Linked DNA regions of Homo sapiens: all the other regions are linked to region 1. Evidence: fine-mapped expression QTL. A gene starts in region 1. Each other region holds a variant in brackets. All regions are shown on one strand. Distances are between the middles of the regions.

Evidence for each region. PIP is the estimated chance that this variant, and not a neighbour inherited with it, causes the effect.
Region 2: its variant is fine-mapped to the expression of EBF4 in whole blood (TOPMed, PIP above 0.99).
Region 3: its variant is fine-mapped to the expression of EBF4 in whole blood (TOPMed, PIP above 0.99).
Region 4: its variant is fine-mapped to the expression of EBF4 in thyroid (GTEx, PIP above 0.99).

The regions. Positions count from the first base shown.
Region 1 is chr20:2,688,898-2,696,372 of GRCh38, reverse strand. EBF4 (EBF family member 4) reads right to left here and starts at 3,593. Exons shown (of 17, transcript NM_001395167.1): 1 at 2,591-3,593. The coding sequence starts at 2,727. LOC105372507 (a long non-coding RNA gene) reads left to right here and starts at 3,753. Exons shown (of 3, transcript XR_937210.3): 1 at 3,753-4,307; 2 at 4,909-5,033. RefSeq lists an enhancer at 1,438-2,422.
Region 2 is chr20:2,731,186-2,738,660 of GRCh38, reverse strand. The region is part of intron 6 of EBF4 (EBF family member 4); the gene reads right to left. Among named protein-coding and RNA genes, the nearest start is that of EBF4, 42 kb to the right of the region's middle. RefSeq lists an enhancer at 1-99. The variant C/T (reference allele first, on the strand shown) is at 1,864.
Region 3 is chr20:2,738,997-2,746,471 of GRCh38, reverse strand. The region is part of intron 6 of EBF4 (EBF family member 4); the gene reads right to left. Among named protein-coding and RNA genes, the nearest start is that of EBF4, 50 kb to the right of the region's middle. RefSeq lists a silencer at 3,127-3,176 and an enhancer at 7,329-7,475. The variant C/T (reference allele first, on the strand shown) is at 4,818.
Region 4 is chr20:2,751,688-2,759,162 of GRCh38, reverse strand. EBF4 (EBF family member 4) reads right to left here. Exons shown (of 17, transcript NM_001395167.1): 11 at 7,375-7,463; 12 at 7,176-7,241; 13 at 6,900-7,077; 14 at 6,618-6,806; 15 at 3,339-3,536; 16 at 179-254. The coding sequence ends at 184. Among named protein-coding and RNA genes, the nearest start is that of CPXM1, 45 kb to the left of the region's middle. RefSeq lists a silencer at 6,759-6,938. The variant C/T (reference allele first, on the strand shown) is at 4,627.

The DNA.
Region 1 (7,475 bases):
AGCCTCCCAAGTAGCTGGCACTACAAGCATGCTTCACCACGCCCAGCTAATTTTTGTATTATTAGTAGAGACAGGGTTTCACCATGTTGGCTAGGCTGGTCTCGAACTCCTGGCCTCAAGTGAAACGCCCACCTTGGCCTCCCAAAGTGCTGGAATTACAGGCGTGAGCCACCGCGCCCAGCCTGGTCACTTTATTTGTAATCGGAGAGAGACATGATCTTAAAAAAGTACTTTGGAAATACTGCTTTGGTCCCCAATGCAGGGAAGATGGTTTTAGGGGAGTGGTGAATGGCTGGGGCTAGGCACTGGGCCAGGAGGCTGAGGTGGTAACCAGGGTGCAGTTAACCTTCAAGCCAGGGAGGAAGCGGGTGGAGGGCCAGGGGGTTTCATTGCTAAAAGTGGTGGCTGAGGGCACTGAGATTGGGACTAGGACACGGAAAAGAACATTCCTAAGCCTTGACAATCAGGCAACTGTGGGGTGAGGCTGAGGAAGGTGTCAAAGCCAACTCTCGGATCCCAGGGAGTCTTTTGGGAGAGCACTTCCGTGAAAGTTTCTCAGAGATGAGAGGGAGAGAAACCAGGCCGTGATGAAGGCGGAGGCAGGGCCAGGGGGAGGAATTTTCATTGTTGCTGTTTTGGGATGAGAAGACCCGTGCAGAGGACTGACTGAGGAACCAGATACAACTGTAGTGATGACAGACAACACGGGGAAGAGTGGGGAGGAAGGATGAGGCAGCTCCCTCTGGGACAGGGAGGAAAGTCAGCTGAACAACAAAGCGAGTGGGGGCTCCTAGTCTATGTCCTGAGACAGAGAAGTCTCCACACTTGGGGATTAGCAGACCGAGCCTGAAGAAAGCCCCTGTTCACATTGCGGAAGCCCTCTGCATCCCAGCAATGTGGCCCTCACAATGTGGGGAGTCAGACTGGACACCCCAAGCCCACTCAACCCCACTATGCGCAGACACCACTGCTGTGGCCCATGCTCTGGGGGAAGCCTTATCCCCACACTTCTTGAACCCCACGCAGTCTCCAAGGGCACTGCCTCCTTCACGTCTGCTTCCCCTTCATCAGACCTGCCTCTGGGTAGGCACAGAGGGAAAGGTTGCAGAGAAATGGAACCTTAACTCCCAGAGGCCCCCATCAGCACTCCTCACCCACTCTTACAAAGAGCTCTCGCCACACAGCAGGTGGTGGGGCCAAAGAGGGGGCCATGTTAAGAAACTAACCTTCTCAAGTTGAAAAAAAAAAAAGCCAGAACCAACAGAAGAATAGGCAGGAGGTGGAATTGTAAGCATAGCACAGGAAAACACAAGTTAATGGGAAGAAAAATAGGAAGGAAATACACTAAAATGTTGACAGTAGTTGTATTACAGAGGAGGGACTAAATTTTTTATTTTCCAATTTTTCTAGAATATAGCTATATCCCTTGTAAAAGTTTTGGAAATTAATTCATCCACAAGACCCTTTCTCTTCCGTAAGAGATCAGCTCCAGAGCCCCCCAGCGTTCCCTCCCGACAGCCAGGAAAGGACCGGCGTGCAGAAACGGCTTCAGTTTGCACATGAAGCGCGGTGTGTGTCTGTTACACGGTGAGGTTGAGGCGTCCTGCGGAGTGTGAATGTGGGCTCCTGTGTCAGGCCCGGTCTGCATTAAGCCCCCCATTCAGAATCCCTTCGGGCTGCTGCAACAGCTCAGACTTCTGGGAAGCCAAGTGCCCACCCTGTCCCAGCTGTCAGCAGAGCTGGCACCTCCCTAATCCTAACCACTGTGACTCCCCATAGGATACCTAAATGCCTCCCTCCATGGTCACAGCTGAAGGTGCAAAAAGCCAGGGGGTGCAGGGGCTTTGGGGGCAGGTCAATAAACTTTTAAAGTTCGCTTTCAAATCCTGGAGTCAACCCCCTACTGAGACTCCCAGACCCCTGCAAAGGAGTCAGAGGAGACCGGCGCGGGTGCTGGGTTCCCAGGGACTCTCTGCCTTCCAAAGGACCTACCAGAAAAACACCCGAGGGAAAGGCAGGGGCCCTGCCCAGTTCCCAGGCCAATCAGTCCAGCCAGGCCGACTGCCCACCTCATCTCTTCGCCACCGTCCAGCCCCCAGCCGCTTCTCTGGCTCTGCACACCCCCATCCGCCAACTCTGAGGGGCGTGGGAAAGGAAAAAGGGGGCTGGGTTTCGTGCCTTTCCTGACAGAGAGCTGCGGAATTGGACAAGGAGAGTCACTGGGACTGCCCAGGAAGGAGGGGCTGGACGTTCCTAGACGGCCGGTGGCTGTGGGTCATGGCTGGGAGCTCTGCCTCTTCTCTCAGAGCCATAGACAGCCCGGCTGGGGTGGCGTTCACCGCCGCACCCGCGAGCGGCCGTCAGAAATCTACCGGGGCAGCCCGGAGTGGAGGCAGAAGCCCCGCCCCAGCCCGCCCCACAGCCTCAGGAGGCAGCACAGGCACTCCGGACGGGGTGGGCCGGGGAGCTCGCCGGGACCGTCCAGAGTTAGGGCTCCTTCCGCCCCTGGCTCCAGCAGCTCCAGCAAGCTGAGCTGAGGCGGCGCGCAGCCGTCCAACCCGAGCGCACCGGGTCCGGTCCGAGCGCTTACCTCTGCGCCGCGGTGCTGGCGTCCAGGATGCCCGCGCCCTGCATCCAGGAGCGCACTGAGCCCAGGCCGGCGGGCAGCAGCGGCTCCTCCTTCAGGTTCAGCCCGCTGCGGGGCAGAGCGTCCTGCGCAGGGAACATGAGGGCGCGCGGTGAGTGAGCGCCCCCGCCGCCCCGGATCCGGTCCCGCTGAGGCTGCGGGCGTCTAGCTCAGCCCGACCCGACGGCACCAGGCGCCTCCAGCAGCGCAGCGCCGAGTCCGGGTGGCTCAGTGCGCGCTCGCCTCTTGGGCGCTCCCTCGGAGAAAGCGGGTCCGCGGGCGCCGGCGCTGTCCCCTCCCCTCCTGGGGCGCTGGGCGGGGAGATGGAGGGATTCCCCCGCGGCCTGAGCGCTGGCGGGCGGACTGCGAGCGGGGCGGGGAGGGCGGGGAGCGGAGCCCGCACCCGGTCCGCGCGGAGGCGCCCCAGAGGCGCGCTCTGGCGGCTGCCCGGGGCCGCGGTCGTCGGAGGGGGGGCCCGAGCGCCCCGGGAGCTGCCTCGGGCAAGGCGGGGGCGCGGGGCCGCCCGCCCTTTCCCCCTCGCCGCCCCCACCTCCCGCCCGCCCGCCCGCCCGCGGCGCCAGCGCGGGGCGCTGATTACCATCCGGGAGGCGGAGGCTGCGGGCGCGGAGCTCGGCGGCGGCGGCGACAGTGGCGGCAGCGGCGGCAGGAGCAGCAGCAGCCGCGCGTCCCGGGGAAAGGCTGGGGCCGCGCCGGGCCAGCAGACGCCGCCGCCGCCAGCGCCAGCGCCCCGCGTGCCCCGGCGTCCCGGCCCTGCCGTAGCCCCGGGCGGCAGCACCTGGAGCAGCAGCAGCAGCAGCCCGGCCGACTCCCCCCGGGGCCCGGTTCCCGCGCCGCCCCGCCGCGGCCGCCGCCGCCCGCCGCTCCCCGGGGCCTGGCCTCGGGCCCGGGCCATCCCGCCGCCGCCGCCGCCGCCGCCGCCGCTCCCGGGGGAGCGGTAGCCGAAGGGAGGGAGCGCAGGCGGGAGGAGGGATGTCGGGAGCGGGCGGGCCCAGGGGACGGGGGCCCGGGGGAGGCGGGGGCGGGGCGGCGCGGCCGGCCGAGGGGCGGCCGGGGACGTGACATCATCGGGGGAGGAGCGGCCGGGCCCGGGCCGCGGCGGCGGGGCGGACCCTGGCGAGTCGGTCGCCTGGGCTGGGGGCTGCGGCCTGGTCGAGGCCGCGGGAGGGAACGGAAGAGCCCGGCGGGGGCCACGGAAACCCGCGCAGGGAGGATCCGGGGCCGCGCGGCGAGGGAGCCCGGCCCGAGCGGGAGGTGCGCGCCCCGCTGCGCTCGGGAACCTCCGCGGCCTCCCCGTCGCCGCCGGACGAAGCCCCGGCGTCTTCGCGGCCTCATCTCCCTCCCCCGGCACCCGCCGTACTCTCCGCGCCCGACGCCTTGTGCCTGGACTTGCTGCTCATTTTGACGCCTCCGAGCTTTCGCTCTTGACGTCTTTCTCCCGCGTGACTGTACTCCCGCATTTCCCCGGCGACCCTGACCTCACTTTCACCCCAGCTAAGGACTGAAACGTCCCTGCCGTAGGCTGCGGCCCCAGACAAGCTGGGCGAGGTCCCTGCATCCAACCATCCCGATTCCTGATGCTGGGTTACCTAAGCCTAAAGCATTTTCAGTTTCCATCTGTGCCTTTCAGGAACCTCCTGATTTCTGATTGCGAGTTGGACAGGTAGGCTCAGAGCCCAGCTCACCTCCTGTTTCTCCCCAGCCGCGTCCCGTCTCAGATCCCATTCCTTTTTTTTTATTAGTTCCTGGCACAGAAGTCGTCTGGCCCTTGACCGTGGGGCAGAGACATTTCTGCCCCTCTCCCCACGTTGTCCTGGCCAGGCTTCGAGCAAGCCCAGACTGAGTCCAGCACTTTCCTGCAGAACAGCATGGGGGCCACCTGCCCTGCCTGCCATGTTCACGCTCAGACACCCCTGCAATAACACCTTCCTGCTCCAACTCACTCCCATCCTCTTCTGGGGGGCCTCCAAGTGTGAGTTAGCGTTCTGTCACACATTGGCCCAGATGAGGCGTCCTGGGGGCACTGCTGGTTCTCCTGCCATCACAGAGGCCCTCTCACCTCCTTTCCTGGTCTCTTTACCACCCCTTCTCTCTATGCCTCTCCCCATCACCCACAGGGGGCTGCCATTCCCACCAGGACTCCTTCAGGTCTCAGCTTTTACCCTAGGTGGGATTATCAAACATGGGTTTCTCCTTAAGACAATTCTTAAGCCAGTCTCTTTCTCCATCTCCTGATCTGCCTCTCTAAATCTTGCTTCTCACAGTGTGGTCCCCGGACCAGCAGCATTGACATCACCTGGGAGCTGGTGAGGAATCCAGACTCTTAGGCCCTGCCGGGACCTGCTGAATCGGAACCTGCAATTTACCAAGACCTGTACACACATTACATGTGAGAAGCCCCCCCAGAGCTGTTCCACACTTGCTCCACTCCTCTCCCCAACATTCAGACCCACCTCTGGCTCTCTCATTTCCAGCAGACACCCTTCCTCTTACCCAGTGGAGAGGACTCAGGGAATCTTGGCAGAACCCTGCTGGCACCATCAGCGGCGTATGCTCCTCCTCGTTTCTGTCTTTTCACCCGTTCTCTTCTCTCGGTCTTCCACTGTGGAGATGGATGTGGAACCTTTTTGCTTAGTCCTGTCTTCTGCCTTTCCTGAGATTACCCCACCGATCTCCTGTTTGTGTCTCAATATGTTCTTTTCTCTGCTCAGATCTCCCCATTCTTAAAAGAACTGTCCCCTCCTCCTCGCCTCCTTCTTCAATTTCTGCCCCTCCTGTGTCTGAGACCGTTCACAGGAACGCTCTGCCAAGGATGCCTGACTGGCCCCCAGCAAGCCACTCCTGGGGCCCTTGTGTGCTGGCTCCCTTCCAGCCCTGCCTTCCTGCTTCTGCTCTCAGACTCCGTGGTCTCTCTTGGGCTTCAGGGCCTGGGACCTCCTGGCAGCAGTGGGCTACCCCACCCCCCAACCCCACACACACGGGAAACCACCCTGGTGACCAGATATATATATATATATATATATACACATATATATATGCATGTGTATGTATTTACACACACCTGGGAAATATATATATCTGGTGTATATATATTTACACACACCTGGGAAACTGCCCTGATGACCAGAGCACACTGTCTTTCTCCTCTGCCCTCTGAGCACCTCAAGCTGCTGTGCCTGGCGCTCTTCTTCTGTTCTCCCCTCACAGAATTCACGTTCCTCCACAGTCTCAGAGAACATCTTTGAGGAAATGGTCTCCCCATATGGGACTCTCACTTCTGTCAGTCCTGAACATCAGTGGGTGAGGACAGGGCTGGGCTTGGCCCTCAGAGAGGAGAGGAGCACCTGCCTCCGGGGAGGGTCCCTATCCCAAGAGGCTCTGTCCCTAGGCTGGGATGGGGCTTCTTGGTCTCCACAGGTTCACTCTCCACCAGCCAGCTCTTCTTCCTGACTCCCCTGTGTCTGTGCTGGGCACCTCCTCCTGCTGCCCACCAGGCTTGGAGTTTGGGAATCATCTCCAATACTTTTCTCTCCCTGTCCTGCAGCTACCTGTTTGTTTGGTCTTAACGGGTCCCCCTTCCCTTTCCTCCCTACCCCAGTGCCCACAGAGAATATCTAACAGCAAAACGTACTTTTCCTCCACTGGACTCCACCCTGGCTTGGAGCAGATATGGAATTCCCAGTTCTGCCCACAGCCTCCTCCCTTAGCTCCCGTCCCCAGCTGCTCACCCCCAAACACCCCCATCCTCCTGCCACAGTTTTAAAAAGTGTTGCTTGGATTGGGCCATCGCCTGCTTAGAAACTTAAATGTCTTTTGTGGCTTCTCAAATAAACATTTAGGCCCTTAGTTTGGGAACATTCTAGGCCCTTTGATGCCCTATCCAATTTCTCTTGCCGGCCAGCCTTACCTCCACTCCCTTGCTGTGTGAGTTTCTTGCTTATCCAGCATGGGAGATCACACCGTTTCCCAAACCCAGCTCCCTGTCTCCCAGCTCCAGCCTTCATGCTGGCTGGCCCTTCCTGCCGGAATGCCCTCACTTTGCAGCATTCCTTTTTGTGATGGTTGAAGTGATTTGGTTGGAGTGCTTTTCATTCTGGAAGGTTGTCCCCAAGATAGATTGGGGGATAGATGCTCAGAATTAACCTGCGCAGAAGGTGGAATCAGTCAGCCCAGGAAAGTGGCACTGAGTTAAGGCTCAGTCATAGCTGGGGCAGACTCCCAACTTGCGTGGGTTTCTGTTCTATCCTAACCACATGGAACAGAAAACCAGCCAGGATGGTGTTTGAGGCTTCCCAGAGCCTGCAGCCCCAGAGAAGGGCTCCTGGGTTAGAGCTGCTGAACCAAGGGGTGATGAAGGGAGGAAGGTCAATGAGCAGTTCTGGGGCAGCACTTGGGGGTCAGAGGTGAGTGTCTCTGCTTTAGATCCAGGTGAAAGTCTGTTGTTTCTTGGAACCCTCTGTGCGCTTTTATTTTGCATTAGTTATCTTATTTTTTAACCTTTTATTTATTTATTTTTTTAGAGTCAGGGTCTCACCCTGTCACCCAGGCTGGAGTGCAGTCGCGCGATAATAGCTCACTGCATCCTCAAACTCCTGGGCTCAAGTCCTCCCTCCTTAGCCTCTCAAGTAGCTGGGATTGCAGGTGTGCACCACCATGCCTGGCTAATATATATTTTTTTTTTTTGAGACAGAGGTCTTGCTATGTTGCCCAGGCTGGTCTCGAACTCTTGGCCTCAAGTGATCCTCATGCCTTGGCCTCCCAAAGTGCTGGGATTATAGGTGTGAGCCACTGTGCCGGCCATGCATTATTTATCTTAGTTCCTTTGTATATT
Region 2 (7,475 bases), 42 kb before region 1:
AGCTGCCCACCAAGAGTGGCAGTGGCTCCACTTTCCCCAAACCAGGCCTGAGGGGAGAGGAGGAAGGGTGGAGTGGCCACTAATGGGAGGCCTCTGGGCATGCCACATGCAGCGGCAGGAAGGGGCTGGTGCATGGTCACCATGGTGTGCCTGTGTGGACACAGATGTACACATGCACCCACACAAGTCCTCTCAAGCCTGGGGAGTCTTCTGTCAATGCAGGCTATCAGAGTCCACGAACAGAAGAGAAGGAGAGATAGAGAAAAAGGAGGGAGGAGGGGGGATGGGGCATGGACGGCAGCAGAAGCCACAGAGCTGGAAGGGGTGCTTGCAAGTCAGAAAGAGATTTAAAGGAGAAGGTGGGAGTCTGAAGGAAAGAAGTTGTGGGTTCCTCTGGCCTTGGGCAGAGGTGGTGGTGTAGATGAGACCCAGGCTCTAAGACCAGAGACCTTGGCACCTCTTATCTATGAATCAGGTGAGAGGTGGGTAGCGGGTATTAGCAAGGCCTGGCATCTTCTACAATTCACCAAGCACCCAGGGCAGAGAGAACAGACAGAAGATTAAGTGAGAATGTCCCCCTTCCTATTCAGAGAAAGACCCATCCCCAGCCTGGGATGTCTACCCCTGACTGTGGGCTCTGGTTCTGGAGGCAGGACGTTCCTCCTTGGTTCCCACTGAACTTTTTTTTTTTTTTTTGAAATGGAGTCTCGCTCTGTTGCCCAGGCTGGAGTGCAATGGCGCGATCTCGGCTCACTGCAACCTCTGCCTCCTGGGTTCAAGTGATTCTCCTGCCTCAGCCTCCTGAGTAGCTGGGACTACAGGTGCCATTTTTTTTTTTTTTTTCACATTTTTAGTAGAGACGGGGTTTCACCATGTTGGCCAGGCTGGTCTCAAAGTCCCGACCTTAAGTGATCCGCCCACCTCGGCCTCCCAAAGTGCTGGGATTACAGGTGTGAGCCACTGCGCCCGGCCTGAACTTTCTTGCTGCCGTCCAGGCTCAGCTGCACTTACTCTAAGATGATCGGTAAGGGTGGGGTGGCAGGAGGGTAAGAAATGACTCTGAGGCAGTCACTGTGCTGGGCACTGCATGAATACATCCTACTAACTCCACAGCATCCTCTCCTTCCCAGAATCACAGGAGGCTCATTGGTCAGCTCTATTTTACACATTAGGGAACTGAAGCTCTGGGAGGTGAGAACTTGCTCCCAGTTACATAGCCAGACATCCCAGGTTGGCTTGAGTCCCCAGCCCTCAATAACTCTCCACTTTGTGGAGAAAGCTTATTATTCAAGTTGCAGGCGGTTCACTCACTAGCCGCCTCCACTCCACCTATTATGGTTCCCAGGCTGCCTCATGCCTGCGGTCCCCCTCTTCCCCCAATCTTCTTTTCTTTTCTTTTTTTTTTTTTTTGAGACGGAGTTTCGCTCCTGTTACCCAAGCTGGAGTGCAGTGGCGCGATCTCGGCTCACTGCAAGCTCCGCCTCCCGGGTTCACGCCATTCTCCTGCCTCAGCCTCCCGAGTAGCTGGGACTACAGGCGCCCGCCACCACGCCCGGCTAATTTTTTGGTATTTTTAGTAGAGACGGGGTTTCACCGTGTTAGCCAGGATGGTCTCCATCTCCTGACCTTGTGATCTGCCCACCTTGGCCTCCCAAAGTGCTGGGATTACAAGCGTGAGCCACCGCGCCCGGTCCTCTTCCCCCAATTTTCTATGGAGGCACTGTCCAAATCTCTGCTCCTGTCTCAGCATGGAGGCCAGTCTGGCCCTAAGCTTGGCTTCGGCTGCCCAGAGGTCTCCTCATAAGTCCTTCCTCTTCATTAGGGGTCCTTTGTCCTTATGACTGGCATCTCAGCCTATATGAC[C/T]TTCGGAGCACATGAGCGAATCTCTCTTGAACCCCCTCTGCTTCTCCCTCTCTCAAATGCTCTCAGCTCTGAAAAGAGTGGTGGGGGTTGGGGGGAATGGGGAAGGAAGTGCAGTGCATTCAGGTGGCAAGAGGGAAACCTTAGTCTCACCTCAGCACTGACCCAGCAGGGAGGTTCTGGAACCTCAAGGGGGATTGCCAGAATGGATCTGGACAGAAGTCTGTGCTTGCAGCATGAGTGTGGGAGATCCTGCTGGAAAGCGTGGAAGGAGATGGATGACATTGGGCTAGTTTTGTGGCTGTAGAGGAAAACAGGGAATGTTGCATTGACCAGTGGATTAGGAAGGGGGCTGATTCTTTTGCAGTTCCCACAGCCCCTTTCATCTAATTGCACTTATAATGTGCCTGATCTAGGGTCTAAATTTGCCCCCAATAGAGTAGACCAGAGCTTACCTTTGCCAGGTGGCTCGGACCTAAACTATTCCAATAGTGTCACTGAACAACACCCACCAGGCAGCAGGCACAATTAAATGCCAGGGAGTATCCATAGCCCCCAGCTTCTATCTATCCCTAGGAGCCAGAGAAGAGCTATGAGCCTCCCATGGGAGGGTATGTTTCCCTACCCCTGCCACAGGGTCATCCTGGCCAATCAAGCAAATATTTAAAGTCTTAGAGCTGTGATGTCAGATACAGTAACCATGTGTTATTTCTTAAATTTGATTTAAATTAAACACAATTAAATATTCAATTCCTCAGTCACGGTAGCTACAGTTCAAGTGCCCAATAAATATGTGTGGCTATTGGCTACCATATTGGTTGGTACAGAATATTTTCATCATTGCAGAAAGTACTATTGGATAGTGTGGTCTTCAAGCCTTACATTGTTTTCTATTTCTTCTTATTATTATGTAATTATAGATAATCTCTACTGACCTTTCTTCAAGTACACGAATTTTTTTCAAAATTATAAATTGTTGTTTACATAATTATATTTGTCTCCTCAACTGCTCTGTAAGCTCTCAGAGGGCAGGGATCATTGTTTAAGCCTCTCTTCTCCCAAGCATCCATCATAGTCCCAGCCCCACAACAGGTGCTGATTGATTCATGATAGAATTCAAGAGTCAAAAATTACTGTGACTGGATGAATGCTGGACTAAAGCCCCCAAGGCACTTTTAACTTGTGCCCAGGTAAGAAATAACAATTACAGGGACAGGACTTTGGGAATTGCTAAGTAAAGACCTCTGAAAATCCATTCTTCCATAAAGAAACAAGAACACTGGCAAACATGGTCAAAATCAACTTTCTCAGAACTCTAAAAATTAACAACATGTGTGCAACAACTCAAGGAACATTGAGGCAAGAAAAATGGCTGAGTTGTAATAAGAACAGAAAGCTTTGTGGTGTTTTAATTTGCCCTATTCCCATCCCCTACTCCCCAGCCCTGTTGAAGACCAGCTACCTTGCAACCACTATTGTAGTTGTGAAAACTAGCAAGCTAGCAACCATAGGAAGGGGTAGAGTGGGTTTGGAGCCTCTCAACAAGCTGTATTCCCAGTCAGTTTTCACTCTTTAACCTTTCTAGCAACTCCCTGACAGCTTTATTTGCAGAACTTGTTATTTGACCCGATTCAGAACTTACTTAGTGGGAAAGACCCTATCTTCAGGGTGTTTGTTGAAAACAGCCAGCGGCAATTGCTTAACATTGCAGCTACATGAGGCAGCAATACAAGTTGGGGGCAAATAAAAGTTTGGCCATAATATTTTAAAGGAAAAAGTGGGGAATAAGATGTTCACAGGGGCTCTGAAAAGCTCTGACATATTCCTGGAGATCTAGAAAGCTATGCATATGTGCAGGGAGAGGCACATGCCCAAAAAAGGCATGGAAAGCCCCTGGTCTCTCACCTCTGGTTTATCCCAAGGCCCTGAGCAAGCAGGAAGTGAAGGTCAAGGCAGAGTTGTAAATCGCTGGAGCACTGAAGGCATGTCTTAACACACATACAGAACCTTTTGGCAATGGGTTGAACACTTATTGGCATTCAAGGCATTTAAAGAAATGCCTGTCCAATCATGGCCTGATAACTAAGCCAAGAGCAGAAACTTCAGTGATTATACATGACAGGAAATATAGACTTTATATAATTAGTCCAAGAAAATCACTAAACAAACAAACAGCAATAGCAATAAGAACAAAATTGGGAGGGAGGATCTGATTGCCAGAGTGCAACATTATATGATTAAAATGTCCAGTTTTCAACAAACAATTATGAGACATGCAAGGTACAGGAAAGTAAGACCCATACATTGTAATAAAGCAGCCAACAGGAACTATCCCTGAGGAAGCCCAGAGGTTAGAATTTTTAGACAAATACTTTATTAATTAATTTATTTTTGGAACAGGGTCTTGCTCTGTTGCCCAGGCTGAAGTGCAGTGGTGTGATCATGGCTCACTGAAGCCTTGACCTCCCAGGTTCAAGTGATCCTCCCACCTTAGTTCCCAAGTAGCTGGGACTACAGGTATGAGCCACCATGCCCAGCTAATTTTTGTAGGTTTTTGTAGAGACAGGGTTTCACCATGTTGCCCAGGCTGGTCTCAAACTCCTAGGCTCAAGCAATCTGCCCTTCTCTGCCTACCAAAATGCTGGGATTATAGGAGTGAGCCACTGCAGCTGGCATAGATAAAGACTTTAAATGAGCAATTATAAATATGTTCATAGAACTAAAGGAAACTATGTCTAAAAAATTCAAGAAAAGTATGAGAATGAAGTCACACCAAAAAAATCAATAAAGGATTTCAAATTATATTTTTAAAAACCCATGAAATTCTGAAGTAGAAAAGAACAATAAGTAAAATTTAAAAATACCTGGAACAAGCTTCTCTAACCTGCGACCCACGGGGCACATGCAGCCCAGGTTGGCTTTGAATTAGCCTGCAAATTTGTAAACTTTCTTATTATGAGATGTTTTTGCTTTTTTTTTTTTTTTCTCATCAGCTATCGCTAGTATTAATGTATTTTATGTGTGGCTCAAGACAAGTCTTCTTCCAATATGGCCCACGGAAGCCAAAAGATTGGACACCCCTGACCTAGAGGAACTCAACAACATATCTCATTTGGTGGGACGAAAAAAAATCAGTATACTTGAATATAGGCCAATTGAGATTATCTAGCTCAGAAGCAGAAAGAAAAAAGAATGAAGAAAAATGAACAGAGCTTAAGAGACCTGTGGGAGCCATCAAGCATACCAGTATATGTATAATGGGAATCTGAGAAGGAGAGTAGAGATGGAACAGGACAGAAAAATATTCAAGAAAATGCCCCTAAATTTCCTAAATGTGCTCAGTAATGAAAAACATTATTGAGCACATCTTAAGAAGCTCAGTAAACTCCAAGTAGTATGAACACAAAGTGTATGATCTATACAAAGACACATCATACTCAAACTTTTGAAAGCCAAAGAAAAAGAAAGGATCTGAGAAGCAATGAGAGAGAGAGAGAAGTAACTCGTCATATATAAGGAATCCTTAATAAGATCACCACATAACTTCTGAAACCATGAAGGACAGAAGGCAGTGAGATGATATATTGTGTTAAAAGAAAACAACTATCGACCAAAAAATTGCATGTCCAGCAAAACTATCAACTTCTAAAATGATCAACTTCAAAAATGAAGGAGAAATTGAGACATTTTCAGATAAACAAAAACTGAGAGGATTCATCACTAACAGGTTTGTCCTACAAGAAATACTAAAGGGAGTCCTTCAGTCTGAAATGAAACAAGACAAGACAGTAATATGAATTAACATGAACAGATAAAGAGCACTGGTAAAAGTCACTACATAGGTAAACATAAAAGACAGCATAAATGTATTTTTGTTTGTAATGATTTTGTTTTCCTATCTAATTTAAAAGACAACTGCACATTTGTGGGGATAGGGGATATATGGGAACTCTTTATAATTCCGTCTCAAAAAAAAATAAGAAAAAGAAAAAATAAAAGAAAAAGAAAACACAAAGCACAATGGCAGACATAAATCCTGTTCTATCAGCAATTACATTAAATATAAATGGATGAAATGCTTCATTAAAAGGAAGAGATTGGCAGAATGGATTAAAAAAGAAAACTACAACACAATCCAACTATATGCTGTCTATGTGAGACATACTTTAAATTCAAATGTACAAAAGGCTTTGAAAATAAAGGGATGGAAAAAGAGATAACATGTGAACCCTAACTGAAAGATAGCTGGAGTGGCTATACTAATTTATGAATAGACACTAAGATAAAAATTATGAGAGACAAAGAAGGACATGTTATAATGATAAAAGTGTCTATCATCAGAAAGAAATAACAATTATAAGCATGTGTATCTAATAACAGTCCGGGTGTGGTGGCTCATGCCCATAACCCCCGCATGTTGGGAGGCTGAGGCAGGCAGATTGCTTGAATCCAGGAGCTCAAGACCAGCCCAGGCAACATGGTGAAACCCCGTCTCAACTAAAAATACAAAAAATTAACTGGGTGTGGTGGCATGCACCTGTAGTCCCAGCTACTCAGGGGGCTGAGGTGGCAGAATCAGCTGAGCTTGGGAGGTTGAGGCTGTAGTGAGCCCTAAGGCTGTAGTGAGTTGAGACTGCATCACTGCACTCTAGCCTGGTCAACTGGAGTGAGACCCTGTCTCAAAAGAAAAAAAAAAAAAGCACATGTATCTAATAACAGCTCCAAAATGCATGAAGCAAAAACTAACAGAATTGAAGGAACAAACAATAATAACTGGCAACTTCAATACCCTACTAGCAAGAATGCATAGAACTATTAAGTTTGACTGGGGCCCAACCTAGCATGCAACTGATAAAGAAACTCACATTCTGTGTGTTGAAGCTCTGCACACACAATGTGAAGTGGCAAGTGAAAGGTGAGGTACTCCTGGCTTTAGCTCTATTCCTAAGAATTCACGTTCACATCCCAGAAGCACAAGGCCCATCAAGTCACAGGCAGATGGAGGCCTGGATTCTGTGCCAGTTCCCTGTTCTAAAAGGAATACCATAGATTACAGGGGTTTGCTTAAGAGAGAGAGGCATCTGGTACCCACGGACAGAGAAAAACTTGGTTTGTTCGTAGGAAGAAGGACAGTAGAAGTGGCCAGACAGATGTCCGCAGCAGAGAATGCTGGCTGTCCCCGTTATCTAGCTTCCTTCCTTTCTTTTCATGATAGAACCCTCTGAGTCTTACCTAGGTTGAGGGATGCCCATTTAGACGCTATCTTTCCCAGCCTCCCTTGCAGCAGGGTGTGGCTAATGGCATGAGCAGAGGTAAGGTGGGACCTTTAGGTTATGTCTTTATAAGTAAGCTGCATGCCCTATTTCTTCTATCCCCTTTTGGTATCTCTGAGCCTGTTTGGGCTATACAGATGAGGGTGTCACCTTAGGGGAGAGCTGAGGAAAAGACTGCTTGGTCCTGGATGACTTTATGGAGAAGAGCCACCCTGGACTGATGCCCTGGACTGTTTTGAGAGAACTAAACAAATATTTAAGCCACCACATTTGGGGATTCTTTGTCACAGCACATTATGCTAACTTACAGTGTCATCAAACAGCAAAGCTGGGCTGGGCACA
Region 3 (7,475 bases), 50 kb before region 1:
GGTCCTGCCTCTGTCTACATTCTCAGCACTTGTCATGTTCCCCCACAGTGGGCACCCCCTATATTTCCCAAATGGTGCACCCCTACAGTGTAGACAATCCATTTACCCCTGCAGGATACCCTGCAGTGCAGACAGCTGTTATGCCCCCAAACAGTAGTCACCAATGTGTAGATGCCATATATATCCCTATGGGTCACCCCAAGGTGCAGACACCTTCAGTGCTCCTGAGAGGTACACCTGCACAGTGGGCGCACTCCATTTCTCTCTTATTAGTTACTAATCACTCCCTACACCCCTTATGACACCCCATGGTGTAAACACACTACACCCACATGTGCGACATGTTCCTCATCCATGCCCCACATTCACATGTGACAGAGTATAGACTCCCTACTCACACACACAGGCAGACCAGCTCATTTAAATTAAGTACTCGTGTGCTCGGTCCTTTGGCAGGTGCTAGATGGAGGGAAAAACACCAGGATGGGGCATGGTCTCTGTCCTAAAGGGATTGAAGGCTCACCTTTGGATACCACTGAAGATGCGACAAGCATAGGACTGCACCAAAAGATGACACATGTGCCCACTGCACCCCACTCCACTCAAACCTACAGGATCAAGAGGAAGGGTCCTTGGGAAGGGGCCAAGATAGGGGCTCTGGCCAGGCCTGGACTCTCTGCATGACCCGGGGTAGGTAAATCCTTCCACACCCATGAAGGGAGAGTAGCGATTGACGGCTGCCGTGACACCTTCTAGTCCTGCCTCTGGGACATCCTTTACTTCTGCCCTCCCCAAGGCTGTGGTTTCCTGCTCCCTCACTGGCCCTTCCCCAAGCCTTTGCTCAGCAGGTCTTGCCACTGTCCCTTTACAGTACAGGTTTCATTTGTCCTTTGGGTCCACACCAATTCTCACGCCCTGTACAGCCACCATTTTCTGGCCACTCTAGGTTTCAAGGACCACCCCTTTCTGAGAGCCCTAGGGACCTGCCAGCACCTCTGTCTATGGGGACACCTCAGTGTTTGAGCCTGGCTAGCATTACCTGCAGAGTGTGGGTGAGTAAAAGCAGCTGCACAAGACCATGGCCTGCAGTGGGGGCTGAGGGTCAGTCCCCTTCTCCCTTCCCTTTGGGCCTGTCCTCAGAGCTAGCACATAGTCGAAACCATCCATGGTGTGGCTGAAACCTCACTCCCTTCCAGCTGGTAGTCCACGAGGCTTCTCCCAGTCAGAGAGCCTGCACCACCCCCTAAGACCAGCAGCGTCAGCGTCACCTGAGACCTTGCTACAAGTGTAGAATCTCAGGCCTCCCCTCAGACCTGCTGAGTCAGAATCACATCTCTGCATTCATACGCCCTCCAGGTGATGCTGGTTCACCCTGAAGTTTGAGAACTACCGCACTGGAGCTGCGCTACCCATTACTATAGCCACCAGCCCCACGCGGCATGAACCCTTGCAGTGTGGCTAGTCCGAACTTGAGATGTGCTGTAAGTGTAAAACACACATCAGATTTCCAAGACTTAGAAAAAAAGAATATAAAATAATTCATCAGTAATCTTTTATGTTGATTTCATGTGGGAATGCTCATCTTTTAGATATATTGGGTTAAATAAAATGCATTATGATAATTAGTTGTATCAGTTTCTTGTGGCTACTGGAAAATTTAACATTACATATGTGACTTGAGGCCTTGCTCAGTGGCTCGTGCCTGTAATCCCAGCATTTTGGGAGGCTGAGGTGGGTGGATCGCTTGAGGCCAGGAGTTTGAGACTAGCCTGCCCAATGCTGCGAAACTCCATCTCTATTAAAAATATAGAAATTAGCTGGGTGAGGTGGTGCATGCCTGTAGTCCCAGCTACTCAGGTGGCTGAGGCACGAGAATTGCTTGAACGGGGGAGGTGGAGGTTGCAGTGAGCCAAGGTTGAGCCACTACACTCCAGCCTGGGTGACAGAGTGAGACCCTGTCTCAAAAAAAAAAAAAAAAAGAAAAGAAAAAAAGAAAAAAGAAAAGAAAAAAGCATATTTACATACATATGTGGCTTGCTTGCATTATATTAATATCGGACAATGCTTCACTGGAGTGTATGTCTCTAGGGGAAAGTGACTCGCATTTACTATTGATTGATTGGAGCACAGACTATAAAGTTAAGTGCTAATTTGTAGAAAACTGATAAGATACAAATGATATTTGTCAGTGGGAGCTAAAAATTTTGATGACCTGATATAAAAATTAGCCGGGCGTGGTGGCAGGCGCCTGTAATCCCAGCTACTCGGGAGGCTGAGGCAGGAGAATCACTTGAACCCGGGAGGCGGAGGTTGCAGTGAGCTGAGATCACGCCATTGCACTCCAGCCTGGGGGACAAGAGTGAGACTTCGTCTCAAAAAAAAAAAAATAAAAAAAATAAATAAAAACTTTGATGACCTGGAGGTAGAGCATGGAAAGACAGATAATAAAGACTGGGAAGGGTGAGTTGGGGGGCAGGGAGAAGAGAAGTGGGTTATAGGGTACAAATAGCAAGATAGAAGGAATAAACTTGATGTTTGATAGCAGAGTGGGGTGACTATACTTAGCCAAAATGTATTGTACCTGTGTGATGGACACCCTAAATATCTGGATTGGATCACCACACATTGTATACTTTCACTTGTACCCTGTGAATTTATACTCCCCGCCCCCAAATTCATATGACTTGGAAACAAATGATATTTGTCAGGAGAAGTAAATAATTTCTGTTTGGTGGAGAAATTAGCCCTAAAGATGATAAAATTGTCCTATGGACATTAACTAGCTTTATATCTAATTTGGCCATCTTATTCCAGTATTTTCCACACAATCCCTTGCCTCTCCCTCCCTCCCCTCAACCCCTTTCCATATACGCACGCACTCACACACTCGCACATGTATCACTTTCTCTTCGTCTTCTTTGAATCAGCTTTGTCATCCCATTGGTTCCCTCATCAATAAGTTATAGAAAACTTTGATACATGCTCAGTAGCAATTTGTATGAGAATCACGCTTTTGACATTTTGAAGACTGTGCTTTGGCAAAGGTGACCCGCCCCTAAAGGCTCCTGCCTTCCAAGGCTGGACCTGGAATTAGAGGACTTCCGTTGGGGTCTAGAACCAGGAGCAGTGCCCGGGCTCTCCCCTGGACCTAGAGAGACTGCCGACCCTCCGGGTGCCGCTGCCTGGTCCTCTCCTTGCCCACCAGGGGGAGACAGACACACCGCAGAGGCTGGAAGGGCGAACGTGAGAACAACCCAGGAGAATTCTCCCTTGGCTGACGCCCAGGGGGTGACACTTTATTCCACCTGAGCAGTCAGGGAAGGATGAGAATGGAGTCAGGGAAGAAGAAGGAGGGGCAGCAGGTCCTCCAAGCCATGTCTGCACAGAGGCCAGATGTGGGGGCTGGGGACTGGGGGAGAGTGAGAGACCTGGTGGGCAGGGGAGTTGGAGGGAGACACACACATGGAACACATGTGGACATGGGAACTGCGGGCAGGTGTTCCCCTTGAAAGAAGAGAGCCTGGGAAGGGGCTGGGTAAGTGAGGACAAGGTTCTGGGCCTGGGACACCCTGTAGGGACTTGAGGCAGGAAGGGATGTGCACTTTGTTGAGGGGCTTGAAGCCCTGCTTGTCAGCATGGAACCACCCCCCACCTCTAAAGCTTGGATGAGCCTGGGGGTGTTCTCTGAGCACCCCTCCCCACTCCTGGCCCTATGGGGCTGAAAAGGAGTCTAGGAAAGCCCGTTTTTCCTGACCAGGATGGGGGCAGGGGGCAGGGAGTGGGGAGGAGTAAAGTGAGCCCAAGTCCACAGCCCTCTCTGACCTGAGGATCCCCATGGAGGGTGACCACTGCAGGACCAGTGCCCAGTGCCATCCCACTGTGGCCATGAGGCTCTTGGAGGGCATGGCTTCCTAATCCAGACCCCACAGAAAAGGGAGTAAGGGAAAGGCCAAGTCGCAGAAGCTTCCATTAGGATTACTGGAAGAAAACACCATAAATACAAGCATGACTTACAAATGAAATGCATTAGGGAGGTAACTATGCAAAAACAAAACAAACAAACAAACAACAAAAAAAGAAAAACAGGGAACCAGGTCTAACCCATCAGGCACTCAGCACCTTAGCAACTGCCCAGAACGCTGCTGAGTTTGTCACTTTGGCATTATCTTGCTCAATCCCCCAGGTCGTGTCGGTCTGCAACCATTCCCACTTTACGGATGAGAAAACCAAGGCTAAGCTATTGACTGTGACTTGACAAAGTCACAGTCAATGCTAAAGTAAGGATATGAAAACGGGTCTTTATGAACCACTGATGCCGACAAGAGTCCTAGAAGTCCTTCTAAGTGGGGCTCTCAGAGTCCGACCCAGGCTGGTACTGCAGCGGCAAGCCTGCCTTCAAAAGCAGCTCTGAGAGGCAGGCTGTGTGGGGACCAGGATAGTATGTTGTGGGGATTTCCTCGAGGTTACAAATTCAACAGGGTTGCAGAGGTCAAACTCAGGTCCTCTTGCTCCTAGTTTTGGGCTTTTGGCTGTTGTGACTGCTGCTATCAGTCGAGAAGATCTTCAGTATTAAAAAACAATGGAACCAATAGTTAAAAATTGTTCTAGCTCATTGGGGCTATATGGGCTTCATTATTCCATTCTGCCTGTATTCCACATTCTCAATAAAAACTTTAATGAAAGACCAGAAGAAGAGCTGTGAACAGTGGTCATCCAACTAATGAAGTATCTAAAGGATGGTAGTTATGCATCATGACTCTGATGCCTGTGACTTAAAGGAAAGCTCAGAGTAGTTCACCCACACACCCACCTTACCA[C/T]ATCCTGAACTTGGTTTAGCCTTCGTAATCATGTCTATAAACGCTTTTTATTCCTCCCCATAAAAACAGCTCAAGATGAAATGAAAAGAAACGTCTTGTCCATGGAGTATTTCCTACCAAAGAAGCAAACTCTGGGTTGAGTATGGCTAAAGTGCAAACATTTAACTTATACACTACTTCTCAGGGGTGACACCATTGCATTAACTCCCCAAGCACAGTGCTTTACTCAAAAGAGACACTCAGTAGAGAAGGCAAGTGTGAAGGCAATTGATGTGAGTCCACTGTTAAATTCTAGGTTTTCAGGGGGTAGAAGGCAGAGTGGGATGGAGCTGCTTTTTTTTTTCAGTCAGGGTCTCGCTCTGTCACCCAGACTGGAGTGCAGTGGTGTGATCTTGGCTCACTGCAGCCTTGACCTCCCAGGCTTAAGTGATCCTCTCACCTCAGCCTCCTGAGCAGGTGGGACTACAGGTCACACTACCATGCTCAGCTAATTTTGTTTATTTTTTGTAGAGACGGAGGTCTCAGTACGTTGCCCAGGCTGGTCTCAAACTCCTGGGCTCAGGCGATCCTTCTGATTCAGCCTCCCAAAATGCTGAGATTACAGGCATGAGCCACCATGCCTGGCCTGGAGCTTCTTTTGGAAGACAACGTCCAGGAACTTTACAGTGAGTTGATGCCTGCCTGATTCCCTCATGCCCCAGCTGCAGTGTAGACTGTCAAATGGCTCGCAGCTGCCCCAAGGTAATCTGAGAATTACCCTCAGCCAAGAGCATATACTCCCCACCAGTAGCCCACAGCCAATGACAGATTGACATTACAAGGAGGACCAACTCTCTGGCCATTCACACTCCAGACCTCTGCATGGGATAGGCTGACGCTAGACTCCGACCGAGACCACCTCCTTGTTAAACTCCCTCTATACTCATTCCTTTTCTCCTGAGAGCTCTCCTTTGATAAACCTCTTTCACAAGAATCCCCATCTCAGGCTCTGCTTCCAGGAATCCCACCCTAAGAAAACTTAGGTCACAGAGCTAAGGCTTTTCACCAGCTTTTTCTTCCCTGCATCCCCATGAGATACTTAGGGCTGAAATTATGTTCTCACTTCCAAAGAGAAAGCTGTCAGTAACTCAAAGAGCTGGAAGGAGAGCCCGAGTGCATTTTCCACTACAGGTCTGTCAGGGGCAAGGAAGAACGTGTCTAGATTACAGTGCTCCCTAAGGGAACTTTTTCCAGAATGATATGCATTAGCCACGCATGGCTACTAAGCACTGGAAATGTGGCTAGTGCAACTGAGGAACTGAATTTTATTTCATTTTAATTAACATAAATCTATTTTTTTTTTGAAACGGAGTCTCGCTCTGTTGCCCAGGCTGGAGTGCAGTGGCGTGATCTCGGCTCACTGCAACCTCCACCTCCTGGGTTCAAGCGATTCTCCCGCCTCAGCCTCCTGAGTAGCTGGGACTAAAGGCGACTGCCACCATGCCCAGCTAATTTTTGTATTTTTAGTAGAGACAGCGTTTCACCATATTGGTCAGGCTGGTCATGAACTCCTGACCTCTGGTGATCCACCCGCCTTGGCCTCCCAAAGTGCTGGAATTACAGGCGTGGGCCACTGCGCCCAGCCATTTTAATGAACATAAATCTAAATAGTCACATGTGGCTCGAGACTACCATATTGGACAGTGCAGATCTAGAAAGAAGGTATGCAGTGAATGGATATACGAGCTGGGGCAGGATGTTCCAAACAACAGTGTGTCCTGTGAAGGCCTTGGGAAAGACAGCAGGTTAAGAGTGAAGGGTAGATTAAATTGGATATGTGTTTCCAAGCCCAAAGCTGGCACTGCAGCCTGAGATGGGGAAATAAGGGGACAGGGATCTCCGCTAATTTTTATCCTAAAAGATTTGTCTTGGGCTCCCATGAGCCTCCGAAGAAACTGAAGCAGTTTCTGGCTCTCCAGCGTGTTCACTGTCTGCTTCTCTCTACCCTCAGCTCAGGGACAGAGGAGGACACAGAGGGCTGGGCCATTCATCCCCTCATTCATTCCATACACCCACTTAAAAAGATTTATTAAATACCTTCTATGTGTTAGGCACTGCGGCATTGTATAAAATCTTAAGGAAATTACAACCCAACAGGAAAGAGAAACTCAGGAAGACAGAGTGGTGGGCACGGCAGGAGGATGTGCCAAGTGTAATCTGCAGTGGCCACTTATTTTGCCTAGGGGAGGCGGAATGCTTCCTAGAGCTCCAATTTGGTCTTGGGTGATGGGTCTTGGAGGATCTCACCGAGAAGTAGGAGGCAGGGCCCTCCATGCAAAGGGACTAACAGCTCCACCACGGGGCAGACGGCTCACTCGATCAGTGGTGCCTGACAAGACTGAGGAGGGCAGCGTGGCTTGGGGCCTGGGGTTGGGACCAAATCATGCGGGACTTGGATCCTCTGGGTGATGGGAAGGCTACAGGGGATGTCTCCCTTCAGGCAGAAACAGGCACCAAAGGGCCTACGCTAGAGAAGGGAAGGGAAATGAGGAGCTTACTGTAATAGTTCAGGCCCATGTGGGGTTGGCCCAGGCTGCTTCCTGGTCTTAGCCTGCGGTAGAAGCCAAGATAGACTGTCCCCAGGGCCACAGCCACCTGCCAGGCCTGGACCTGGCCTCC
Region 4 (7,475 bases), 63 kb before region 1:
GCCAAGTACCTCAGAAAGCTGTCTAGATGGGCCCCGGGGAGGAAGACTTGGACCCCAGCTCCCCATCCCTGTGGGGCTGCTAGCGGGGAGGCTTGAGCACAGGATGAAGGCCTTTAGAGAGCAAGCACATCTCAGGGCCAGGTGGGGCGGGGGAGGCCAGACCCAGCCAGAGACCTACCGTAATTAGGAGTATGCCAGGCCCTGAAGCCCCCGGGCTGGAGAGTGAAACTTGTCAGAATCCTCAAAAGACTGGTCTGCAGTAGTCAAGGAAAAAGGAGCCATAAGCCATGTGCCACCTGGGAAGCCACCTGCCTGTCACTCTCTGGGCTGGAGACAGCAGGCAGGGGATATAGCACTTTCTGAAGGCAGTCAGCCATCCCTAGCCCTGGCCCATGGCAGCACTGCAGATCGGGGTGAGGGGTGCCTCTCAGATGCTCAGGGGATGCAGCCCACGCCCTTGCTCCCTACCTCCCTCAAGAGAGAGACGACCCCAGGCTCCTTCTCCCAGGGTGGCCTCCTTCAGAGGGCCCATCTGCTTCCTCAAGCGCATGGCCATGTACCAGGGCAGAAAAGGAAAGAGGCCAGCCTCCAGGAATACTGACTGACATACCCACAACAGCATCCTCTGTGCCTCCCACACCTACGAAGTTTGTCACTCCACCACTCCCCACCCCTACCTGACCCCCTCCCATGGTTCTCTTTGCTGGCAGGAGAAATTGGTGACCCTCTGTTCTCTCCATCCTTCACATTCTAAGCTCCAGACACACCTAAGAAAAATTATCCAAAACTTGGAAATAAGGCAAAAAAAGTGACTGTGTATCCTTTCAAAGCCACCGTAGAGCATTATCAAATAAGCCCATCTTAAGAGTCATCTTATTCTGGGGCATGTGACGTCTTTTGACTTCACGCTACTGGCTAGGGCCCAGGCTTTGCTCGGTTGGATGGATGTTCACTTGGAGGAGGCTGAGAAATGGCTGATGACTTCTCATTGGTAGAAAAGACAGTCCCCAGAGGAAGGTTACAAGTTTATTGCTCTGTAGAAGCAGTTTGCAGCCAGCAATCTTATTCCAGCCCTCCTTGTTTTACTGGCTTCAGTCTCTCACTGTCTCCTTTAAGCCGCTCTGTCATCCTGTTAGCTCCCTCACTGATGAGTTAAATAAATCTTTGGCATATATTTGTATGTTATTTATTTATTTACTTATTTACTGAGACAGAGTCTTGCTCTCTTGTCCAGGCTAGACAGACTGGAGTGCAATGGTGCAATCTCAGCTTACTGCAGCCTTGACCTCCCAGTCTCAAGTGATCCTCCCACCTCAGCCTCCCGAGTAGCTGGGACTACAGGCATGCGCCACCACACCCAGCTCATTTTTCTATTTTTTTTAGAGACGAGGTTTTGCCATCTTGCCCAGACTGGTCTTGAACTCCTGATCTCAAGCGATCTGCCCACCTCGGCCTGCCAAAGTGCTAGGATTACACGTGTGAGCCACTGCATCTGGCCATGTTATGTTCTTAATGTTTTGAACGTGGGCTCCAAATCTCTGCCTTCCCACCCACATACCTTCAGCCTAAGGTCTACTCTATCTAGGGCATTCCTCCCCCACTAAGAACCCCTGCCTTCTTCAAACCTTGCTTGGGCAAGTCCTTCCCTGAATATGGGCTACCCTCTGGATGGGTCACCAAGCAGCCCCCTTGCCCTCCCGCCCTCCCTGGCACAAAAGTCTGTTATTGTTTGAGTCACCATCACAGGCCTGCCTGAACTGTGCAGAGGGGGTTCCCTGGTGGGAAGGGACCCCATTCTGTGTGCAGGGCAGGGCATCAGCACAGTTCTCAGAAGCTTCTGGGCTGCACCTAGTTGCTCTGACTGCCCTCAGGGTAGCCGATTCTGTGGGACGCTGCGGACATGTATCATCCTCAGTTGTTCTCCCAGGCCCTGAGCTTTCCCATCCTCTTTCCAGCGTCCCCGGACTCTCATACAGGGACCCTGGAGCACAGAGGCTCCATAGAGCATTTTCCACAGCCCCCTCCCCTGTCTCAGCCTGGAGGCTGCCCCACCTGCCCCTGCCTTGGATTTGGAGATGGTTCTGGGGCCCAAGCCACTGGCCTTGCTCTTGTGATAGGCATCCCAGCCTGATCAGCCCCTACATCAGGCTGAGGAAACCATGAGGGTGTCTCTTCCTGCATCTCAAGGTCATTCCCCAGGAACTAATCTCAAGATGCTGTTAGAAAAATACATTTTTGTGCTCAAATAAATTTGCATCTCCTGTTTCCTAGAAGGTTCACAACGTACCCTGGCACATGAAAGGCTCTGACAAATTCTTCAGTAGCCACTTACGTAATTTCAACACTGATTCTTTCCTAATGCTCTGTTGCTCTGACCCATTATTGTCTTGGGGAATACTCAATAGGACGTGCTCTAACCCAACCTCTTCCAGATCAGTGCCCCACAAACTGCACTGCAGCCTTCTGTGTGGGTGTGAACGGTGCCCTTCTGACTCATATATTCATTCAATAATTTGACTATTTATTAAACACCTGCTGCATGCCAGATTGAGTCCTAGGGGATCCCGTGGAAGCATCCCTTAGCCAGAAAAGAAAACACCTGTAAGCCTCTTAGGGAAGACACTGGCCCTGGCCCCCACCATCCCCATCAACAAGGACCTGTTCTGCCCCACCCACATCCTGTTGCCTCCTCCTTTTCCACAGCCAGTCCCTTCCTCTGTCCTCCCAGTGAGTTTCCAATCACCACGTGGATAGGAAAGGCTCTGCTGGTTCAAAGGTTCTGCTGCACATGGGTAAAGTGAGAGAACAGCCATTTCATGAATGGGATGTGGGAAGATGACTTGGTCTCAAGTCCTAATCTGTAAAATGCGGGGAGGGAAGCTGGGCTAAGCCTCTTCTAAGGTCAGTCCCCTTCCATGGTCAGCGACCCAGTCCCTCACAGTGGTGTGTGCTACCCTCTGGTGGACACAGGGAGGCACAGGTACAGGCGTGCAGCCCACCAGCTCTGAGGGTCTTTGCTCTGGGCTCAGCTGGATGGGGATGGAGTGTTGGGGTAGTTTCTAGACCTCATCAACTGTGATTTGAGTCTCTTCCCCTTGGCCAAGTGGTCAACTGAGAGCATCCAGAATGGTGACCATCCCAGGCTGGGAGGCCAGGGCAGAGGGGGCCAGAGGGACCTCCCTGGACCCCAGCAGAGCTCCCTGCTCTCCGTCCTCCAAGAAGAGCAGGTTAGCCAGCATGAGGCACTGGTGAGATGTGGACAGAGCAGGCCCCTGTAGCCCAGCTGCTCCACAAGGGCCCTTCCTTCCTGCCACAGTGAGGCAGGGTGGATCACTCACCTGGAAGCCCCTCTCCGTGGGCTCTGGGGCAGGCCTGGGGTGGGGAGCTTGGGGGGCGCAGCACGGGGGCGAAGGCGCTCCTCTGTTTGACGGCGGAGATCATGTTGACAGGCGAGAAGGAGAACACGCTGGTGGTGGGGGCAGCGGCCGGGAGGGACATGGAGGAGGCAGCCGCCAGCGGGGGGCTAGAGGGCATGACTCCGGGGCGGGGCGGGGAGGGGCAGGCGCAGCAGGGAAGGTGGTGGGAGACACAACAGGGAGACAGCACCAGAGTGAGCAGCTTGGCTGGGGCCCCACATGGGCTGCTGACACAGGTACCAGGCTCAGATCTCACTGGGAGCTGTGAGGGTCCTGGGCCAGCCCTGACCTCTCAGCGGTTCTGGAGACCTTTTCTCGGGGCTGGGGATGACAGGGCCAGACCAGGTAAAGACAAAAGCAAAACCAGAACATTCAAAAAAAACAAACAGTGGGAGGTACCCCCCAAAAATGAGATGAGCAACAGCTGGACTACTTCAGGATTTCTGCTGAAAACCCCTGGGATTCTGAGATGCTAGGAAACATTTATGAGCCTTGCTTGGGGTGCCAAGGCTAGAGTCATAGTTCAGGAGTCACAGAAGAGCTGGAACAAGTAGTTAGGGATGAAGTTTGGGGGAACGCACAGGCTCCTGTTATAAGCCTCTCTGCCCAGCATCACAAACAGCACTCCAACTTCCTCCTCAAATATGCTCTCCTTGCCAATGTTCCCTATGCTCCTCTGTCCCTCTCCCACTTCCCCCTGCACCCTGGGGTACTTTGTTTCCTTACAGCTTAATGCAGGTCCTTGTCATCTCCAGCCTGGGCCCTGTGGGGGGGGGTGGTCTCCTGAATCTCCCACTTCCAGCTGGTCAATTTTAAAGCAAATTGCAGGGATGTACATCCTCAGATCTTCCTGCTCTCAAACTCCCTAGCCACCCAGGCTGCGGCTTGCCCTCCTGGGAATGGCAAGGGAGCCTCCTGCACACAGACTTTGCCTGCCCCCTCTTCCTGCAGCCTCCTCTCCTGGGGGCTCAGGCCTGGGGCATCGCTGGATCCCACCTTTCTACATCCTCATCTGAACCCAATTCCCTGCCTCTCTCCTGTAAAGACTGGTAAGGCTGTGATCTGAGTATTGTCCAGGCAGCAGGCAGTGGGGTGGGTGGGGCTTCCTGGAAGAAAGCAATAGCCTGAGAAGGCTGCCTTTGGCATCAGAGGGCCCTCCTACCTCCCTTGATACAAGAATGCCTTCAACAGCTGCCCCTCTTCCAAATGC[C/T]CTCAGCCTCATCTCCTTTAAGACAACAGTTACTGCCAGCTGGAGAGGCCCCAGAGCCCGATGAAGGGCTTGAGACCAATGCCAGAAAATGTACTATAGCTCTCAATGCCCAGGGCTCACGGCCACATTTTGTACCTTGGGTAGGTAGTGTGGGGAGTTGTGATTCATTCCAGGGTTGCTGGTGGCTGAAGCAGAAAAACAAAGAGAGACCCAAGCAAACAGCCCCTGAGCCTCTGGCTGGGGCAGTTCTGATGTCACTCCAGGAATGTTCTCGCAAACTCAATGAGAATGACACCCCTTGGAGTCGGGCCACAAAGCACCCTGAACGTGGGGAGTGGAAGGGTACCTGGGTAAGCCTCGGTCAAGACAATATCATGAAATGGGACCAACCCTCCCTCAAGTCCAGTGTGTCTCCAGCTGATGCTGGGTTTAAGCAGCTCTAGAATTCTTGATCTTCTTGCTGAATCAGAAGACCCCAGCTGGGCTGGGTTCTGCACACTGGGGCAGAGTGTTCCTCTACTGTTGACCACAGTGTATGTGATGTTCCATACCCCCACCAGTGTTGGCCCAAGGGGGTGCCCACAGAGAGGCTGTGAGGGTACTGCCCCAGAACTGAAGGGAAGGAGGAGCAGTCAATCCTGGCCTGAGCAAAGAGCCAGGAGAGGCAGGGGCCTTGGGAGGGACACCAGAAGGCCATGGCCTATGTGGACTCTGGCTTATGGGGCCTTGGGTCCCAGAAGTTGAGCCCAGGCCAGAGGACAGGGCCAGGCTCAAGCCTTCAGCCAGAAAGCAGGCAGGACACACGCCCTGCAAGGAAAGCCAGGCTGGTGGACAGACAGTGCAGTCTCGGCAATGGCAAATATGGGACAGGGAGAGGAGAGGGCACCACGGGCAAAGCCATGACCAGTTCCTTCTGGGACAGCCTTCACCACCTCTCCAGCTCGGCAGAGTCGCCTGGGACTTCAGGGACAATCTCTCTTATGATTGATAGGGAGGCTTCTTGCAGGTGACAGGAGTGGGGGGATCCCCCAAGCCCTGGGCTTTGCATACAGTGGGCGCTTTATAAATGCCTGCTGAATAGCTAAGCTAAAAAGAGCTGTGAACATGCTGATCTGGAACTTGATGATGGAAGAGTCTTGAGGGCAGTGTAAAATGACAAGGCATCAAAGCCGTTCGGAAGGTCACTCACTCATGACATGCAGACATTGCCTGTCCACCCAGCTCTGAGCTCCCCACTCTAAGAAGCCAGATGGGATGTGGTCAGCGCCCACAGTCAGGGCTGGGACTCCGAAATCACACACTGGCCCTTTAGGCACAGTGGCACATTCAGATCCGAGATCAACCTTAAGCAGGGGGTGGAATTGACCCTATTTGACTGCGAGGAAACAAGTTCAAATAAGTAACTTGCTGAATGCCCGGCAGCTCCTGATTTGGACACTGAAACTCAAATTCTGTCTGATCACACAGAACTCGCTCGCTCTGCCGGACGACATCGCGGGGACCACATCCTCCCCACGCCCACCTGGCCTCTGGAGTCCTGGGAGCTGGGGGGCGGCTGGAAGCCGGCTTCCCTCGAGCCCTGAGTTTCCTTAGGCTTCCGGCAGGCGGCGCCAGCCTCCTCCCCAAGTCCGGGCGCGAGATGGGAAGGGGGCGGTGTCCCAGGTTTCAGATGGACGCCCGCCACCCATTAGAGCCCACTTCAGGGGGACCGGAGGCCTAGAAGCGATGTGCATAACGGACCGGCAAAGAAGGCTAAAAGTGCACGGAGTACTCTGGCCCCAGGACCCCGGGATGTGCAGCCTAGGGGTGGGGTTGAGGTTCTGCGGCAGGGGAGGTCCCAGGCGGGGACGGTGGGCCTGACCCCGAGGGCTGAGCCAGGGTCGACTCTCACGGCGCCGGCGCCCCAACCTCTCCGGGATGGGCGGGGGCGGGGCTGAGTCCCGTTCCGCTCCCCGGCCCCAGACCTTCCCTCGCGGGCGGGGGACACTCACTGGCGAAGGGCGAGGTGGCGGTGGAGCCATTGAGGAAGCTGGGGGACCCAGGCACGCCGAGGCCGGCCACGCCCGGCGCGCCGTAGCCGCCCAGGCCAGCTCCGAGGCCGCCGCCGTAGCCGCTCTGCTGCGAGCCGGGGCTGGGCGCGAACCCGCGGGGGGACGCGCTGCTGCAGCTGCGCGCGTAGCCTGCGAGAGAGAGCGCGGCCGTCAGGGGGCGGTGCCGGCCGGGGAGGGGCGGTGGCGGCGCCCGAGGACGGCGGGGAGGCGCGGCCCACGCACCCGGCTCGGGCCCCGGGGTGGCGTCCCCGACGGCGATGGCCAGCGGGCTGCTGAAGGCGTTGATGCCCACGACGGCGGGGTGTGGGTGGCTCGGGGCCAGGGGTGCGAGCGGCCCGGGTGCGCGGGGGGTGCTGTACAGAGCCTCGGCCACGTCCGCCGCGCGCTTCAGGAGCAGCTCCTGCGAAGACAAGAGCGGGGCACGGCCGGGGCAGCCGCGGGCGCCGCGTGCTGGGGGGCCCCGGTCCCGGCGGCGCTGGGAGGGCGGAGGCGCCATACCTGGTTACTGCCGGGCACTCCGTACAGGGCTTCTGCCAAGTCGGCCGCCCGCTTCAGCAGCACTTCCTGGGGACAGGGGGAGAGACAGCGGGACGGAGGGGCAGCCCCTGGGGGCGACCAAGGGGCCCTCGGGAGCCCCTCCTCACCCCCTTGCCCACAGGACACCCTCAGCCCCGCCCCGCCCCGCCCCTCTGAGTACCTTGGGCAGCCTCTCGGGGTCTCCGGGGTGTCTGGGAATGACTTTCTGTAGCCTCTGGAATCCGTAGTCAATGGTGGGCTCGTTCAGAGCTGGGGAAGGGG